2 linked regions of the Homo sapiens genome follow. The protein of the gene in region 2 interacts with the protein of the main gene of each other region in a pairwise test. Each region holds a gene or a part of one and is shown on either strand. Other genes may lie near its edges.

What was found. Proteins that work in one complex are often made in the same cells at the same time.
Region 1: the proteins of TBL2 (region 2) and PDPK1 interact in binary tests that used the Homo sapiens proteins (3 or more experiments, as listed by UniProt).

The regions. Positions count from the first base shown.
Region 1 is NC_000016.10:2,583,016-2,590,042, reverse strand, and holds part of PDPK1 (3-phosphoinositide-dependent protein kinase 1), read right to left. Parts: intron 6,632-7,027; coding exon 6,458-6,631; intron 3,368-6,457; coding exon 3,150-3,367; intron 1-3,149. UniProt on the Homo sapiens protein: Serine/threonine kinase which acts as a master kinase, phosphorylating and activating a subgroup of the AGC family of protein kinases.
Region 2 is NC_000007.14:73,568,568-73,575,594, forward strand, and holds part of TBL2 (transducin beta-like protein 2), read right to left. Parts: intron 5,947-7,027; coding exon 5,816-5,946; intron 5,556-5,815; coding exon 5,371-5,555; intron 4,905-5,370; coding exon 4,753-4,904; intron 4,404-4,752; coding exon 4,277-4,403; intron 3,469-4,276; coding exon of another isoform or gene 3,381-3,468; exon of another isoform or gene 3,188-3,380; intron 2,775-3,187; coding exon 2,622-2,774; intron 2,406-2,621; coding exon 1,940-2,405; 3' UTR 1-1,939.

The DNA.
Region 1 (7,027 bases), on a different chromosome or scaffold from region 2:
GCACAACTCAGCAGCAGACATGTCAACTCCCTCTTCGTGCCTGCAGTCGTATCTTGAATCCAGCAAGTTTCGACTGCATTGTGGACTGTGGCAGCACAGGATGACCAAGCCTGAGGCTGTGCTGCAGCCGGAGGCTTTGTCTCTCAGCTACCGTGTGGCCTCTCCAGCCTCTACAATGCAGCTTCTAAGAGCTTCAGTGACTCTTTAATTTATTGTCTGAAAAGCTGTTACAAACAACATTGGATTTTAAAGAGCTCATCACACATATTTTTGAAATGTTCCTTTTAAGTGTAAACTATTCCATGTAAATTTAAAAATTCCTTTTACCTTTTTTTTTTTTTTTTTTCCAATTTTGAGACAGGGTCTCACTCTGTCACCCAGGCTGGGGGGCAGTGGCAAGCTCTCTGCTCACTGCAGCTTCAACTTCCAAGGCTCAGGTAATCCTCCTACCTCAACCTCCCCAAGCAGCTAGGACTACAGGTGTGCAGCACCATGCCTGGTTGATTTTTGTATTTTTTGTAGAGACAGGGTTTCAGTTTCTTGCCCAGGCTGCTCTCGAATTCCTGGCTCAAGTGATCCACCCACCTTGGCCTCCAAAGTGCTGGGATTACAGGTGTGATCCTGAACTTAACTTACCGTATTCTCATGTAGGCACAAGGAAAACTTCAGGATTTCAAAATAATGATTCAGTGGATGATAAAATTACAGAGGCTATAGCAGGTATAAATGAAGAGATAGTAAGAGCTCAGTAGAAATATTGAATATTAATCTCAAAAAATGCATACATTGGCTGGCGCGGTGGCTCACACCTGAAATCCCAGCACTTTGAGAAGCCGAGGTGGGCAGATCACTCGAGGTCAGGAGTTCGAAACCAGACTGGCCAACATGGTGAAACCCCTTCTCTACTAAAAATACAAAAATTAGCTGGACGTGGTGGCATGTGCCTGTAATCCCAGCTACTCAGGAGGCTGAGACAGGAGAATCACTTTAACCCAGGAGGCGGAGGTTGTGTGAGCAGAGATCACGCCACTGCACTCCAGCCTGGGCGACAGAGCAAGACTCTCTCTCATTTAAAAAACAAAACATATTGATACCAAAAACCTATGACCTTAGAAAAGACCAAAAGCACGCAGATTCCATTCTACAGCATGTGACCACTGAAAAACTCACCATACACGCACAGAGAATGACAGCAAAAAGGCAAATAACATCTTAGTATTACAAAAAAAACTGCCCTGACCTCGGGGATTTGGTGGCCACACACTGAGAATGCAAACCACTACTGTAAAGAGCAGGTGCTGGACAGACCTCCCAGCAGCCAGACAGATCCTGCAAGATCTCAGGAGTCATCAGCTTCCCAAAAGGACCTAAAATCTGAAGGAAGTGGGAAGGGGAAAGAGAAACCTGAAGACAAAGGAAGCAGGCAGGAGAATGTGTATCCTGACTTGCCGCCATCACCAGGCTAAGGTACCCAGACGGACCCCAAGGCCCTCTAAGAACAGCCCCAGGCAGAGGGGCCTCTTCTGGGAGTCACCAAAGGAGCTGAAACACACACACACCTGCAGACAGCACCTCTCAGCTGGGATCTGCAGAGAGAGCGCTCCTGGCCAAGTACTTGGAGTGGCCACAGCAGCCCTTCGTGGGGACCCCAGCACACACGAGCCCGGGAAGCTCCTTGCATAGCCAGGCACACGCCTCCTTGCTGCTTGGAGCTGCGCAGCACAGCACGGCTCAGATTGCTCCCATCAAGAGCCCTCCTCTCCTGCTCAGTACACATTAACATCTCTAGCAATCACACTAGGTGTGATTCAGAGCCCCTAGCTGTAGACTGTTGCTGCCTGCCAGCATCTCTGCACAGGTTTTCTAGAGACAGGTGTGGCGAACCGCATAGAGCCGTGGTCTTCCCCACCTGCCGGGGCGGCCCAGAGCTCAGCTCCTTCCTCTCATTCCTCCCCACAAGTCTCTCAAGTCACATGTGTCCTGTCCCTGCCTAGCCAGGCCCTCAACTCCCCCTCGTCTTGTGCTTCCACTCCAGCATGCCTTCCTGCAAGGCCCTCTCCCCACCCCCTTGGGCTCCTCTCTGCCCACACAAAAGGGAAAAGCAGGTAAAAATATTAGGGGGGAAGCCCGTCTTACCAGATTAAAATGGAAAACATAAAATATAAATAGGGACAGGATGGACTTGGTAAGAATTTGCAGCTTCCATACAAAAACACAGTATCGAGACTGGAGAGAAACTGAAGAATGTTTGCAAAACATACAACAAGGAATAGTCTCCATACACGTGGCTTTTAAAAATCCATGTTAAAAAGAGGCACCAGCCTGGCCAACACAGGGAAAGCCTGTCTCTATCAAAAAATACAAAAATTAACCAGGTGTGGTGGCAGGTGCCTGTAATTCCGGCTACTTGAGAGGTTGAGGCAGGAGAATTGCTTGAACCCAGGAGGCAGAGGTTGCAGTGAGCTGAGATCGCGCCACTGCATTCCAGCCTGGGTGACAGAGCAACACTCTGTCTCAAAAAAAAAGATGCAAAATATACAAGAAAGAATAGTCAAAGGACACAAAGTACCTCAAAAAAGAAACACAAATGGTCATGAACACAGGAGACATCTGCCTCAATAGGAATAAAACAGAAATTCACAAGTTTGTTTTTGGAGCATCAAAACACTCTCAGGCAGGCAAGAGCATTGGGAAAGGCAGATTCCTGGCGCCCCCGCGACAGATCCCCAGCCCTGAAAACACGCACGCCCTCCATCACACACTGCCCCTGGCACTCACCTTAGAAGACATAAATGGACAAGTGGGGAAAGCTATGTGGAAAAGAGGGGCTACAACAGCAAACCTCATAAACTCCCAAGTGGCCAGGTCCAGGCCGCGTCTGTCCATACCACAGTGACTCCATGGCCACAACCAGCAGGTCCAAATGCCCGGCAGAGGAGGGGAGCGCCCGGCGGTCACAACCCACTCAGCCCCTGGGCCGGCTGCCTCCTAAGCACCTGTTTCCAACTGTGCACTTACGATGTGCTCCTTGGCCAAGCGTCCAAGGCTGCTGAGGGAGGCAGTGACAAGGCAAAGGCACCCACCATAAGCCCCCACGTGTTCACGCTGCAATTCTGCAAAAAGCATTGCTTATGTCCATAAGTTCTTACCAAGGGTTTCCGCCAGCCTGCTTCTCCAACAACAACCTCTTCTCATCTTCGGAAAACTGTAAGTCCAGTTCAAAGGAGTTCGAGTCCAGATCGTGAATGTACTGCTCTATGTTGCTGCCTGACCTCTGGGGCAGGCCCGTGTCGGAGGCTGACAGGGAGTGTGAGGAGGAGGACGAAGACACCTGCATGCAGCCAAACTGGCTCAGGAGATTGTCATACTGCAGAGAAGAAGGGAAAGTGAGAACCGCACCTTCACTTGCCTCTAAGGTCCTAAAACCCCAGCCCCTCCCGCACTGCCGCTGTCAGGCCTTGGGAGCTCGCACACAGCAAGGCGCAAGGCGACAGGGTGGGCAGCCCTGATTCTCCTCCATGGGACACCTGGCCACAGAACCGAGGCCTCACTGGATCCTGCCTGGTCGGGCTCCTCTTCCCATGGGAATCAGGGCCAGAGAGGGGCGAAGCCTCAGATTTCCTCTCCAGGAAGAGGGGACCTGGGCCCTTACCCTGCGGGCCCCGTGAATGCCAGTGCTGCCCCCCGGAGGTGGGGGCTGGGATGCCTGCTGGGAAGAGAAGGGGCCCAAGGAGGCCTGGTGGCAGATCCATCACACAGGCTGGCAGACAGGGCCTCCGTGCAAGACCTTGTTGGGCCCCAGGTGTCTTAGGAGTCTGAGTCTGTGGTAGATGCTAAATATTTTGATTTGACTAAACACATTCAATTGTTTAAAAGACATTCCTCTTAATCCCAGCAAAGATAAACTAAACTTACTGTAGATAACGCTGCCTGTTACTCTAGGAAAAAGACAAGCTAGTGTCGACAACGGAAACTCACTCATAAACGTGCCAAGCGGACACAGCCTGTGCACTAACACGCTCCTGGCACTGCCAAGGCCAGAGAGTCCCTGGGCAAGGGAAGCCACCTCCCCGGCTGCAGGCCCCACATCTGAGCTCTGTGGAGGCCAAGGACAAGGGGAAAGAAAAGGTGCCACGAGCAATGGCTAGGATAAGAGTGCGGCATGCCCTTCCACGTCCTCCGTGCCTCCAGACGCAGGCCCTGGCTGCTGCCCCACGCAACCATCCACACATGCAGCGTCCCCCATGTGTTCACACTCCTACAGCTGCACCACAGCCCCGCCTCACAGCCCTAAAGCCTCGCACCCAGCTGGGCTGGAGCAAGGTGCTCGCCAACGGGCATGGTGGAAACGCCCGACGCTGCCGGCCCCTCCACGCCGGCCCCTCCACGCCGACCCCTCCACGGGGTGTGGGCCTGCCCAGCCTGCTTGTCTCCAACACTGCCCAATGGTCACACTGCCCCGGCACTTACAGGACCTCAGGAGAGCAGGAGCCAACGAAGCACCTGCTCTCCTGCCTTGGCCCAAGGGCAGGTACCATGGCCAACCTCCCTGGCTGAAGGGGACGCCCAGTGCCCATTCCCCATGAAGGAGGGGGTGCGGCCCTGCAGGGAGGGAGGAGGTACAGCCCTGAAGTCTCCTTCCATGCTTGACACCGTTTGCCAAGACTCACTCACTGTCCCCGTGTGAGGTCTGGCCTGGGAGCTCCCTGCCTGGACCCACTCCAAGGCTTTCAAACCACACAGCTGTGCAGAGCTAAGGATGGGCCATCTAACAGGCGGCTGCCAACAAATGGAGCCTGGCTTCACAGACGGCAACAGAAGCCACGTATCAAGCAGCCCCAGCTCTCAGTAGGCCCAGGCACAGGGGCCTGCACAGGTATGCGGCAAGTGCAAGCACACACACCCCCACACTCAGAGAAGCTCCCCAGGCATTGAGACTGGAGACAACTGAAGCCTGTGCTGCTCCTTCAGAGCCCAGCTACCTCCCTGGGAGCAATGGAGCACAGAGCCCACGGGAGAACGGCCACCAGCCAGTCGCGAGCAAAACCTCTGCAGCAACAGCAGGCCCAGCAGGGAGAGCACTGCAGCCCCGTGGCACCTGCCAGCCGTAACCAAACACCACGCAGGAGCAGCTGAGTGGCACACAGGGTGGGGGCAAGGGCCTCGAGGCTCCCAGGCCTCTGCATACATGAAAGCTGCAGGTGGCCACATCAAGCGGCACAGACTCCGCTCCCCAAGCCTGGCTCCCTTAGAGTTTGGGCTCAAAGGATGTCGGGAGGATGAGGGGCGTTACACAGCAGGTAGGGGCGTTGGGAAACTTTGACACTAGCAGAAATTTAGCTGTGGATGACTTTTAGATAAAATCTAGAATTCCCAGCTGGGTGCAGTAACTCATGCCTAAAACCCCAGCAGTTTGGGAGGCCGAGGCGGGTAGATCACTTGAGGTCAGGAGTTCCACACCAGCCTGGCCAACACGGCGAAACCCTGTCTCTACTAAAAATACAAAAATTAGCCGGGCATGGTGGTGCACACCTGCAGTTCCCGCTAGTCGGGAGGGCGAGACAGGAGAATCGCTTGAACCCACAGCGGCAGAGGTTGCAGTGAGCCGAGATCGCGCCACTACACTCCAGCCTGAGTGACACACCAAGACCCTGTCTCAAAACAAACAAAATCTGGACTTCCTCAGTCATGGAAAGTGGAACTCCGTACACGGTGCCAGTTAGAATAAGCCATGGCGACAGAAGTCAAACCAGAAAAATGGATCTCATGATAACAGCACTTAAGTACGAGGGGGTCACGGGGGAGGTGGCAAGAGGAACTCAGAGGAAACAAGGCTGAAGTGGGCGACATGCCTGCCTCTCACAACACCCTCGGTCCCTTGGGCACATGGTCCACGCTCTCTACGAGAAGCTTAAAGAGCCAAGCGTGCTGAAGACCCCATGGCTGTGGTCAAGCTGGGAGACCAGCAGCCTCAGAGCCTACTCAGCACTGAAGAAGGTACCAGTGTCCCCACCAACGCCACGTCCCAAAAGTTCAAGCACACAACACTCGGGGGTTTCTGTGGAAAGACAGGCAGTGTTCTGGAGCATCTTGGCCGCACAGTTGTACAAGCACCAAGCCAAGCGCAGATGCGACAGGCCGGGCAGGAGGCCCCGTACGTGGGACCCCGGGGCCAGTGCCGGGGGTGCTCGGCGTCCGGTTCTAGCGGCACCCTGTGGGTGGAAACTCACTAGCCTGTCCACGGCCACGGAAATGAGGAGAAAATGACCCACCCAGCACCTCACCCGCCACTGCCTCACGGCAGCAAAGACTACAACCACCAGCAGGCCTGCCGCAGTGGCACAGACACCCTCCCCTTTCGGCTACAAATCACACGTGGGTCTGGCGCACGGGCATGAAGCCCAGTGCACGGAGGACCCAGTGCCACCTGCCTCGCCCGCCATCCCGGCCAGCTTACATTGCCATAGCAGTCCTCGTCGTCTTCCGACATAGCCGGCAGGTAAGCGGTGAGCTTCGGAGGCGTCTGCTGGTGCAGGTTCTCCCACGTGACGGACTCGAAGAACGGGTGTGCTTTAAGAGGTCCGTATCCTTCCATTTCCTCACAGCCTAACCGCTTTGTGGCATCTAAAACCTTAAGTAACAATCAAGACAAGTCACTGCCAGGGTGAAAACGTGATTCTGACCAAAGAAACCCAAACCTGGTAGCCGGGCACGGTGGCTCATGCCTGTCATCCCAGCACTTTGGGAGGCTGAGGCGGGCAGATCACCTGAGGTCAGGAGTTCGAAACCATCCCGGCCAACATGGTGACAACCCGTCTCTACTAAAAATATAAAAATCAGCTGCGCGTGGTGGTGCACGCCTATAATCCCAGCTACTCGGGAGGCTGAGGGAGGAGAATCGCTTGAACCCGGGAGGCAGAATTTGCGGTGAGCCACGATCGCACCATGGCACTCCAGCCTGTGCGACGAGAGCAAAACTCCATCTCCAAAAAAAAAAAAAAATATATATTTATCTCATCTCATCATA
Region 2 (7,027 bases):
ATTTAGAGGGGGGACGAAGCCAGGTTACACAGGACCTTGCAGGCCATGGTAAGAATTTTGGATTAAGTGTTTTTAGCTAGGCACGATGGCTCACACCTGTAATCCCAGCACTTGGGGAGGCCAAGGGGGGTGGTGGATCATTTGAGGTCAGGAGTTCGAGAGCAGCCTGGCCAACATCGTGAAACCCTGTCTCTACTAAAAATACAAAAATTAGCCAGGCGTGGTGGCACATGCCTGTAATCCCAGCTACTCTGGAGGCTGAGGCAGGAGAATCGCTTGAACCTAGGAGGCGGCGGTTGCAGTGAGCCGAGATTGCGCCATTGTACTCCAGCCTGGGTGACAAGAGATTGTCAGAAAAAAAAAATTGTTTTTACTATTTTTGGTTTAGAAAAATTCTTTTGGATTTTATTCCAAGTGTGATGGGAAGCCTTGGGGGGTTTTAACTAGGGAATAATGTGATCTGGTTCACATTTTCAAAAGATCATTCTGCTATATAGAAAAGTAATGAGGCAACAGAGGAAGCAGGAAGATCCATTAGGAAGCCATATTATAGTGGCCCACTAGGTGACAGTAGCCAGGACCAGGATGGTAACAGAAAAGCTGGAGAGAAGCAACAGCCTCAGGATGTCACATGGAGTGTAACCAAAAGAACGTTCTGGTGAACAGATGACAGCTGTGGTGGTGGGACAGAAGGGATAATGAATGGGGAGTCATCAAGGATAACTCCACGGTTGTGGCTTGTTCCAACATTGAGAGGTCAGGGGCAACCAGGGGGGGTCATAGTTTTCGTGAGAGAGATCAAGAGTTTGACTTGGGATGAATAAATTTGCCTACACTCAAGCCTTCCCAGATACCTCATTTCCCTTACCTGCCACACCCACGCAGCCTTCAAATTCACAAATTTAAACTTCTCAATACCGACTCTCTTATCAAATGTACCCCTTCAACTTCAATACCCATTGCCTCTGTCCTGCTCTGGTCCTCTCTTGCCTTGACATATATAACAATAGCTATGAATAAACTAACACAAAGCACTTAATAAGGGTGTATCTCTCTCTCCCACCAGCCATCTTTGATGGCAGAAACCATGTCTTATTCGTATTTAATCCCCAGCTCATATTTATTTGGGCACAGAGTGGGCACTCAAATATCTGATGAACTTGATGAACTGAAAAGAGGTCTCCTTAAACAAGATATCATCTCCCGAAGAGAGAAGTCCCAACCATATAAAATGTATGATCAAGTCCCAGAAAACTTTGCCTTCCCAAGGAATGTGTTTCTAATTTGGTTTCAAAGCACACTGGTTCCCACTTTTACCACTTTCATGACATTGGACAATAGTACTACTCTTTTCTACTTTTCTTCCAGACCTGGGGACTTGATATTCTCTTAGCCTCATATCATCTTTGCAAGGAGTTCACAGAGAGGATTATTCTCCATCTTACAAATAGAACTGAGGCCCAGAAGGAAATCCCTTAGTGTCTTTTTGATGGAACACAGTTCTGTGATGGGAAGCTATCCCAGTCTCCCATCCTTGCAAAACTGCTGCTTAGTACTCAGGTGTTCTCTAGGTTGTTCTGGAACATTTACAAACTTCTTTGGGTGTGAGGATGTGCTGCCACAAGGCCAAAAATCACATTCTCTCTCTCTCTCCTCTCCTCTCTACCATTCTCCTCAGTGCCAGGTGGGGACAGATTCCACCCACTGGGCCTGGGAGGAAGAAAAGCACCTTGGCCACTAGTCAGGGAGGAGTCACAGCCAGCAAGAAGAGAGAGACCTAAGTAGACAAGAGTAGTTTCAATGGGAAGAAGCAGGGCCACCAGTAAGAAAACCAGGAGACTCCTTCTGAAAGGCTTCCACCTGGGAGGAAAGATGGCAGCAGTGCCATGAGGAGGCCAGATCCCTCCTCCTCAATCCTCTGCGCCGGGCCCTCCCAGAGTCACTTCTTCAGGGCACCCAGGCTCTTCAGGGTCTCTTGGGCCTGGGTCAGCTGCTGCTGCAGCCTCTGGCGGGTGCTCTCGTTGGAGGCCCGCTTCAGGTGGCCCTGCATCTCCTCCACCATGGCTCGGTGGCCAGGAGTGTTGTGAAACAGCCGCACCGCCCGGTCCCCACAGGAGGCCAGAAAGCGGCCAGTGATGTCAAAGGACAAGTTGGCGATACACTCGCCATGGACCCGCTCAAAGCACTCCTCCTTCTCGCCCCGCCGGGTATTGTAGAGATGAATACTACTGCCACTGGCCAAGGCCAAGACCTGGGCGTTGGGGGAGAGGGCCAGGCGGCACGGCGCGGCACCCGCCGCCTCTTCAAAGCGGCCTGTCTTCAGCAAGTAGGGGTCCTGCTTCTTCTTGTATTCCACATCTGTGTCCCACAGTTTCCATGTACCATCCTTGGAGACAGAAGCCATCCTGCAACACAGAAAATCACAGCTCAAGCCCCAACACACCCTGGCAGGGTAAGCACTGGCCCAACTTGAGCAGCTCCAGCTAGGAAGCTAAGTCAGCTTCCTGCCGAGGGCCAGGCACCCCACCCTCTTCAGAGCCATGGCACAAACAGACAGAAGGACCCTGGTTGTCAAGAGGGGCCAAGAGCCACTGGTCAGACATCAGAGCGGATTCACTCACCTCCGTGAGTCGTTGGAGAAAGCAAACGAGTGCACAGCCGCGGAGTGGCCCTTTAGTTCGAAGGCTCGCACCACCTCCTGGAACTCCCCCTTCTTTCCAAAGCAGACTTCCCAAACCTTCACATCTGGGGTGAAGCCACACGAGGCTACAAATCTGCCATACAACCCAGAAGCCTTTAAAACTTCATTTTCGGAGCATGTTGTTCCTGTAAAACCCCTCAATCTCTTTCCTGAGAAAGTTGATAATCCTCATATCTGGATAATATAAACCTTTAAAGAGTTATTTTGGCCGGGCGCGGTGGCTCACGCCTGTCATCCCAGCACTTTGGGAGGCCGAGGTGGGTGGATCACCTGAGGTCAGGAGTTCGAGACCAGCCTGGCCAACATGGTGAAACCTCATCTCTACTAAAAATACAAAATTAGCCAGGCGTGGTGGCGCATGCCTGTAGTCCCACCTACTGGGAAGGCTGAGGTGGGAGAATCACTTGAACCTGGTAGGTGGAGGTTGCAGTGAGCTGAGATTGAGATTGCACCACTGCACTCCAGCCTGGGCAACAGAGTGAGACTGTCTCAGAAAAAAAAAAAAAAAAAGGCCGGGTGTGGTGGCTCATACCTGTAATCCCAGCACTTTGGGAGGCCCAGGCGGGCAGCTCACCTAAGGTCCGACAGTTTGAGACCAGCCTGACCAACATGGAGAAACCTCACCTCTACTAAAAATAAAAAATTAGCTGGGCATGGTGGTGCATGCCTGTAATCCCAGCTACTTGGGGGAGGCTGAGGCAGGAGAATCGCTTGAACCCGGGAGACGGAGGTTGTGGTGAGCCAAGATCCTGCCATTGCACTCCAACCTAAGCAACAAGAGCGAAACTCCATCTCAAAAAACAAACAAACAACCACAACAAAAAAGTTCTTTTATGTATGTGACCTCAGTTTATCTTCTAGCCTTGTTCTAAGATATGTAACATCCCCGCCCAAAGGTGGCTTGGCACAGTGGCTCACGCCTGTAATTCTACCACTTTGGGAGGTCGAGGCAAGAGGATCACTTGAGGCCAGGAGTTCAGGACCAGCCTGGGCAACATAGTAAGACCCCATCTCAACAAAAAATACAAAAATTAGCCAGGTGTGGTAGTGCACGCCTGTAGTCCCAGCTACTCGGGAGGCTAAGGTGGGAGGATGGTCTGAGCCTGGGAAGTCAAGGCTACAGTGAGCTGTGATTGCGCCACTGCACTCCTGCCTGGGCGAGGGTGAAACCGTCTCAACAAACAAACAAACAAAAAACAAAAATTAGCTGAGTACAGTGGCACATGCCTATAGTCCTGACTACTCAGGAGGCTGAGCTGGGAGAATAGCTACAACCCAGGAGTTTGAGGCTGCAGTGAGCTATGATCGCACCACTGTGCTCCAGCCTGGGTGACAGAGTGAGACTAATTTTCTAAAAAACAAAAACACTGAAGATGAAGAAATAGCGACTAAGGACATGGGGCGACCTGCATGAAATCCCACTACTGCAAGTGGGGAGAGCTGAGACTTGAAGCTCGGGTTCCTGACCCCACCCCGTATGCTCTTCCCACGCGATGAAGCTGGCTCTCTGTTCTGTGCCTGCTCCCCAGCCCCAGCCTCTCGTGGTCCCAGACGCCAATACCCCTCCTTGCCCACCTGCCACAGGGAGATACAGCAGCGTGTGTGTTGTTCATCTGGTTGGTGTTGATGGTAGACAGCACTTGACCCTTCAGGCTCCAGATGAGGACAGTGGTGTCACTGGAGGCAGTCATGATAAACTTCCCTGAGCGGGAAGGGAGTGATGTGGGTCACGGGCAGTGACCTGACCAACTGTCACTCTCCAAAGACACTTACAAGGCCTCTGCTGCCCGAAGTATACATGTCTCCTCCCAGGCCAAGGGTCACTACAGATAAGGACTCTGCTGAAGACTGTGGCCCTTCCCCACCTTCCCTAGGGACCTGGTGTGGCCCAGGGACTCCAGGGGAGCACAGAGCCAGGCTGTTCAGAGCCAGGGACCCCTTGTTCCTCTCAGGTTGAGCAGAACTTTCAGGCAGCATTAACTCATTGAGGAAATAGAACTGGATCTTTCCTTCATGCTTTGGGCAGGCGCCACCCTCTGAATGCCTCTTACCTGTGTTAGCAATGCCAATGTCGATGACAGGCGCCTTGTGCTTTTTAGGGAAGTCCTCTGGGGTGGCTGTGAAGGTGTAGCCCCCATCCTCCCGCTTGGTCATCTTGAAGACACGGAGGGTGTCCCCGTTGGCCAGCCAGACGATGAAGGCTCTAGAGACAGGCAGCAGACAAGTCACGCTCTCACTGGACAAAGAGGCTCTGTGTTCCAGGTCCTGTGCTGGGTTCTCGGGGAAGTCAAGATCTCTCCTCATGCCCCACAGTCTAGCCTTAAAACTTAAGCCCCTGGTTCCAAATCTCATAAAACTCCTCAAAAGGTAAGATTCTGATAGCTTTGGCTCCTTTAGTTTCTCTCTAGGGTTTAGAAACTAAGGCTCATCTGGAAGCCAGGCCAAGGTATTTCCAGGTAGGAAGAGACCTCCCCCTGTTTCCTTGCTGTATAGCAGCCCAGATCTCCAGGGAGCCCCAGGCAGCGCGCAAACTATGTGGATGCTCTTTCTGGCACCCCAAGGGAGGCCCTGGGTCCAGGTCCCTCCTCACTACCTCAAAGCAGATATGGGAAGGCCAAAGCCTGGGACTAGGCCTCTGCAGGCAAACCTGAGGCTCCGTCTTGTCCCACCTGCAGTCAGGGCTGAAGCGCACCAGGGTGGCGTGGTCCAGCTCCACGTTGGCTCTCATGCTGCGGTGCTCTCGCTGCAGGAAGTCCTTGGTGCTCCAGATGCGGATGGTGCGATCATCTGCACAGGTAGCCAGGTATTTGCCATTGCTGCTAAAGTCCATGCAAGATATGTTCCCGCTGTGGCTCTAGGGGAAGGGTGGCAGGAAGTGTCAATAGGAGCTCCTGGGGGAGATGGGGAAGCCAAACCTGGAGCCGGGGAGATGGGGCCCTGTGGCCTGGATTAACAGCAAGCTGAGATTGGGCTGCGATGAGAGGGGACAGAATTAAGCACCCCCGCTGATTCTGATCAGAGGCAGGAGAGCCTGTAACATGCATGGAATACTCCAGAGGAAAAGCCTGTGGGGCTGAGTCTCAGGGTGCACGCTGTGCCAGGTACCCCACGTACCTTCAGAGCTGCAGCCAGGAGGCGGTGGGTGAAGTTGTGTTGTTGAGGCTTCTCCTTCCGAATCCGCTGATATTGTTTCTGCTTCTTGGATCCCGAAGATTTGTCAGGTGGAAATCCATTTGCTTTTTGGCCTATAAGGAAGGGCCATGTTGTTCTCCAGTTACTCACTGATAAGCATTTACTGCCCACCTATGATGAGCCAGGCATTGAGTGGAACAGCAGGAGATTAACCAGATATGGCCCTTGTCTTCTGGAGGAGAATGAGTGTGATATGGGCAAAAACAGAGGCTTTGGCTGGCTGGGTATGGTGGCTCATGCCTGTAATCCCAATGCTTTGGATCATTTGAGCCCAGGAGTTCGAGGCTGCAGTAAGCTATGATCACAACACTACTGCATTCCATCCTGAGTGACAGAGCAAGACCCTGTCTCAAAAAAAAACAAACAGAAAACAGAAACAAAACAGAGGCTTTGGAATCAGACCTGGGTTTGGATTCTGTCTCTACTACTGACTGACTACTGAGGAGGCTGTTTACAGTAAGTCCACAGAGCACCTTCATGTAGAGTGGAAAAGGCGCACTCTCTGGGTTGGGTGATGCTGCTGGGCGGGTACACAGCACGGCCAGTGGAGTGTGGATCCTTGGCCAGACATCCCTATGTAGGGAGTAATGTGCACAACCATCTCTAGCGGCCCTGCTTTGGGTAAGTTAGTGAATTGCTCTGGACCTTGGTTTTTTTTTTCTTTTCTTTCTTTCTTTTTTTTGGAGACAGAGTCTTGCTCTGTCGCCCAGGCTGGAGTGCAGTGGCGTGATCTCCGCTCACTGTAGCCTCTGCCTCCCAGGTTCAAGCAATTCTTGTGCCTCAGCCTTCCAAGTAGCTGGGATCATGGGCGTGCACCACCATATCCAGCTAATTTTTTTTTTTTTTTTCAGATGGAGTCTCGCTCTGTCACCCAGGCTGGAGTGCAGTGGCGTGATCTCAGCTCACTGCAAGCTCTGCCTCCCGGGTTCACGCCATTCTCCTGCCTCAGCCTCCCAAGTAGCTGGGACTACAGGCGCCCGCCACCATGCCCGGCTAATTTTTTTTTGTATTTTTAGTAGATGTGGGGTTTCACCACATTAGCCAGAATGGTCTCAATCTCCTGACCTTGTGATCCACCCGCCTCGGCCTCCCAAAGTGCTAGGATTACAGGCGTGAGCCATGGCACCTGGCCCC